2 separate regions of the Homo sapiens genome follow, and region 2 is linked to region 1. Evidence: fine-mapped expression QTL. A gene starts in region 1. The other region holds a variant in brackets. All regions are shown on one strand. Distances are between the middles of the regions.

Evidence for each region.
Region 2: its variant is fine-mapped to the expression of ASB13 in whole blood (TOPMed, PIP 0.95).

Annotation. Positions count from the first base shown.
Region 1 is chr10:5,665,009-5,667,735 of GRCh38, forward strand. It overlaps ASB13 (ankyrin repeat and SOCS box containing 13), which reads right to left and starts at 1,587. Exons shown (of 6, transcript NM_024701.4): 1 at 1,501-1,587. The coding sequence starts at 1,543. RefSeq lists silencers at 1,171-1,220, 1,521-1,590.
Region 2 is chr10:5,643,470-5,646,194 of GRCh38, forward strand. All of the region lies in intron 4 of ASB13 (ankyrin repeat and SOCS box containing 13), which reads right to left. Among named protein-coding and RNA genes, the nearest start is that of ASB13, 22 kb to the right of the region's middle. The variant G/A (reference allele first, on the strand shown) is at 1,493.

The sequences.
Region 1 (2,727 bases):
ACAATGCTCGGCTAATTTTTGTATTTTTAGTAGAGACGGGGTTTCGCCATGTTGGCCAGGCTGGTCTCGAACTCCTGACTTCAAGTGATCCACCTGCCTCGGCCTCCCAAAGTGCTGGCATTACAGGCATGAGAGACTGCGCAACAGCCCAAAACCTAAATGTTTTGGTCGCGGTACACCACACATCCAGAATTTGAGGTCAGAATGTTAAAATTGTCTAAAGCTCCTACGGTTCGCCTCTGGTGCTGCTGGAATGGCAGTATTGTTTTGGATCCAACACATTCAGCTTATTCATTACACTGGGAATAAAAAACATCAGCAGAACTTATTTGGGGAGAAATATATTAAATAAAAAATGACAATGTCAAAAATACCAGTGAACCTCAAAAGTTGCGGATTCATTAGTTTAAAATGTGCCTTTCTTCTACAGATGCATTCCATAACAAACGATGCAGAAGACATGCTCAGAAGTGATGCCATGAACAGAAATATTAAAATATGTGTTTAAATAAGCTTCTGCCGTTAGCTATTCACTGCTTACTCAATTAAGCTAATCAAATGCAGATCACAGTGTCAGGGTCAAAGTCTTGTGCTTGCCTGGACTGGAATGCCAAGTAAAAACACATGCTTATTAGATACCTTTGATCATGTCAAAGGTGGTTATTTTGCAAAGTCAATTAAAATATCTTTGCCTTGCTATGACTGCAACTTCCTCTTCAGCTAAATTTACCCTTAAGACTTTTCCCTCTTAGGTGCACTACTGTTTTTACCAGGATGAATATGCTTTAGATTTTTTTTTTCTTTTTAGGCTTTCATAGTGCTTCCGTCGCTCATTTCAGTGACCATATTATTGCTTCATAGGCAGCAAAAAAATTTGCTTCCCCAAAGAGTGTCCTTCCCTCAAATCCATTTCATTCTTGGGCTGCTCGGATTTTGGTAAAGTAGGCTGCGAACTGGGATGGCACTTTTCGGAGTGTGCCGGGGTGCCCCAAGGCCACCTTCACTGGAGCGGAGTCGGGGTCACGCGGACGCCTCTGCAGGATGCTCGGACACTGCGCCACGGCCTCACCCGCGCCAGTGGAGGGGGGTTTAGCTCTTACCGTGGGCTCGCGCCTGGCTTCCCCGAGAGGGAGCACCGTGGGCGTTTCCCAGGCTCTCCCCCGCCACTGGGCAACGGCCCCGCACGCGTCCCGCACCTTCCCCAGGGCGCGCGGCGCTCGGTGGGTTTGCGGTTGCGAAACCCCACACCTGGCGAGCCGCACGGACTGCAACCCCGCAGTGCGCTGGCCTGGGACAAGGCACCAGACATGAGAGCCCGTCTGGGATGCGCGGCACCACTGGGACCCTGCTTTCACCGCGGCCCACCCCGCCAAACGCCCCCGCCCACGGAGCCAGCGCGGGGCGCGCCACCACCTCCCCGGCGCAGGCCATCGGATACGCGGCCGGCCTCAGGAGCCGGCGCCGCTGCCTCGCTCTGACCTCCGCGGCGCCCGCACGTACCCACGTCGCCCAGGAAGCAGCCGTCCGCCGCCCGGGGCTCCATGCGGCTCACCGGCGGCCGCGCGGCGACTCTGGGCGCCGGGACCTGGGCCGGGCCGCGCGGGGCCGCTGGGCGGGGCCAGTCTGCGCTGGGCCGCGCGTCGTCCCGAGGCGACCGAGCCGGGAGTTGTAGTTCCCGCCGCCTTGGCGAGGTTCCCGGAGGCGCTGTCCCTGGGTCCGGACTCCGCTGTCGCTGCCCACCCCGCTTCGCCCGTCGCGCCGAGGAGTGTGTGTGCTTGCATCTGCAAACCGTGCGTCCCGTGCACAGAATACGTCCGGTGCAAAACGTGTCCTGTGCACTTGTCCTATGTAAACGTGTGTGTCCGTGTGCAAAACATGCATCCTGTGCATATGTCCTGTGCAAAACATGCGTCCGTGTGTAAACTTGTATCCATTGTAAGCATGCTTCCCTGTGTCCCTTTGCAAAGCATGGATATGTGTTTCCATGTGCAAAACATGTGTCCTGTACAAAACATGCATCCTGTGCATGTGTCCTGTGCAAGCGTGTCCTGTGCAAGCGTGTGCAAAACATGTGTCCATGTATAAACATGTATGTATTGCAAATGTGTCCTGTGCAAGCATGTGTCTGTGTCCACGTGCAAAGCATGCGTCTAGCTTCCAGAGTTCACTTGCATTGTACAGATGCTGATGATGCTCCAGAGTACTCGAGTTCCCCCATGCTTTAACTTTCAAGAACCGCTTCCCACCAGAGCCGGTGTTCATAATCACTGTTTCTTTGATCTTTCAAGATAATAATTTCAAATCGTTCAAATCAATTTCTTAATGCCTTTTCTTTACGGGTGGTTTTTAATCCAATGTTCCCCTAAGCTGCTTAGCAAATGGAAGCTGGGGCACAACCTGGCAGAAATGAAAAACCTGTTTCCTGTTTCCGGAATAATACCCAGTCAACAATTGAGTAAGGGATTTTTATTTTATTTATTTATTTTTGCAAAGCAGCTTCCCAAGTTTAGAAGGTTTAACCTTGTGAAAGTTCACTGTAGCCCTGTCAGGAGATTCGTCACTCACCTGACCTGTACTGAACCTCCATGCAGAAGTTAGTTTGGGCTCAAAAGTAAAAGTATCAGGAATCATCCAGTCTGGAAATAGGTGAGGCCTGGCAGAGCAGCCAGTTTGATCTCTCACACTACAAAGCTTCTGGGATGACCCAGGTCTCCATCTGCAGTCCAG
Region 2 (2,725 bases), 22 kb before region 1:
TCCCGCAGCCAAAACTCAGAAGTCAGAACAGGAAAAGGATCTCTCAACTAGGAAAAATGCTAACTTATCTATGTCCTGAATTTGGCAGAAATGTACTACAAAAAAATAATATTCAAAAGCAATAGATTAAAGAAATATTTCCCCACAATTCAACCTCTCTTTCACATAAGGGGTTTTCCTCCAGTATAATGTTGCAATCATAACACGAAGTAAATTTTAACACTAAACATATGCTTGTAATGAAAAACAAATTGTACCATCCACAGAATCTAAAGTTCAAGTAGCTTTCTCTCATGTCATTAATTCTGGCAATATTCTTGCCAATTGGGAGAGAAAGAGATGGTCTCTATTTTAACAAAAGAAGAAAAACAGAGAAAGAGGCCCAAGGGAGGCACAGCTACTCTCTCACGATCAGGGAGAAAACCATGGCTGGAAAGAGCTCTAAAAATCACGCTCCCTGCCACGCTCCACAGACGAGGCCTTGGCCAGGGGCTCTTGCAGGGAGGCAGCCTTCCCAATGTACATCTTTTCAAAATGTGTGTTTGGCATCATTTGATTGGGTGGAAGGGAAGGAAGGTGAATAAGGAAGGAAATGAAATTGTGAATAAGGGATTGAAGGGAAACACCAGGCCAGGGGTGCAGGCAGCTACATGGATGGATCCTGAAAGTATAGCACTGAGTGAGCCAAGAAGAGAGTCAGAGATGAAACTCGATCAGCTATGTTCATTAAAAATATATGCTTGGGCCAGGTACAGGGCTCACGCCTGTAATCTCAGCACTTTGGGAATTCGAGGCGAGCGGATCTCTTGGGCCCAGGAAATCGAGACCAGCCTGCGCAACATAGTGAGACCCTAGCTCTACAAAAATTTAAAAATTACCCGGGGGGCGTGATGGCACACATCTGTGGTCCCACCTACTCTGGAGGCTGAGGTAGGAGGATCACTTGAGCCCGGGAGGTTGAGGCTGCAGCAAGCCACGATCGTACCACTGCACTCCAGCCTGGATGACAGAGTGAGGCCCATAGTGAGAAAGAGAACATAAACAGGTACTCGTTAGAGGAAAACAGGGCCAGACACGGTGGCTCATGCCTGTAATCCCAGCACTTTGAGAGCCTGAGGCGGGCAGATCACCTGAGGTCAGGAGTTCAAGACCAGCCTAGCCAATATGGTGAAACCTCGTCTCTACTAAAAATCCAAAAATTACCTGGGCGTGGTGGTGCACATCTATAATCCCAGCTACTCAGGAGGCTCAGGCATGAGAATCGCTTGAACCAGGGAGATGGAGGCTGCAGTGAGCAGAGATCACACCACTGCACTCCAGCCTGGGTGACAGAACGAGACTCCATCTCAGAAAAAAAAGAAAGAAAGAAGGGAACAGATACAGAGGAAAGAAGGAAGAGAGAAAGAGGGTAGGAGAGGGAAAGAAAGTAACTTTGTGTGAAGCAAGGATGGTAACATACCTTGAACTGAGAGGCAAGAGAAAGACTGAGGCA[G/A]AGACAGAGACACAGAGACAGAGAGAGACAAAGACAGGGAGCCAGGAAACAAGCAGGGAATTAAAAGCTCTGAACTTCGTGCTTCAGAGAAAAGGGGTCAACACAGGCTCATTACCAAAATCCTGCTTTCAACACAAAATAGGATTAAAGTGGATTCAGAGAACCCGTGGCCAGTGACGTGACGGGACCGCCTAAGACCTTAGCACGCCAAGACTGGCACAATCCTGGAACATAAACACAAATAGCTCAATAGGTGCTTGTTACCACAAGAGAAATTGAAAAAAAAAATTAAATTTAAAAAATTATAATTAAAAAATTTTTTAAAAATTAAACAACAATTTTAAAAAAATTTTTTAAATTGTGCCAGGGCCAGTGCTAAGAACAAAGGTGGAAGCAGGACCGTCCTCAGGGAGCCGCTTCCGAACACTCCTGGCAGAGTTCAACATTCACTGTCAGTGATCAGATTAAAAATTACTTCACCATCATAACCGGACTTTCACCCTCCCCAGCCCTCCTCCTTTGCAAATACAATCTGGTTCCTGGACTCGCCTCACTGCCTACAAAGAACAAGAACAACGGTCTCCACGTCCCCCGTGGGGTGCAACGTGGCTCTGCCTCACAGCTCAGCTCTCAAACCGCACATGAAAGCACCTGCACTCATGTGGGCCCCGACTGGTTCAATCCCTCTCCCCTCTCCACAGTAACTGGTTCAAATGATCCAGGCTTGAGCCGATCAGAATTTGGCAAAGTTTGGGCAAAGGGACTGGGGAGGGGTGCAGGAAAAGGGACTTTCCACTCTTCTGTTTTTCTAGAGACACGGTCCCTGGCTTTCCTTTGGTTTCCCGAGGGATCTGTGACCTGACCCCAAAAGATCAGAATCACTACTTTTTAAAAATCTGTTTGTGAGGACGTAGGGGATGCTGTTGTTTCTCTCTCCTCTGTATGTTTGAAATTTTCCGCAATGAAAAAATGGTTTCTAAGAAGAAGATGATGATCCATCTGCTCTCACAAGGGGTACTAGAGGAGACCACCCAAGAGTAGGATGGGAACCAGGAATCCCGCGTGGAGCTGATGGCTGGATGCTACCCACAGCATCGAGCCAACACCAACAGTCACTGTGCGGAGGCTTCCCCAAGAAAGCCACGTTCACCTCTAACTCCCCAGGGGCATGCAAACTCCCGGGGAGAGCTGTGGGAACCCCACTTTAGGGCGACAGTGGGCCTCACAGCTGCC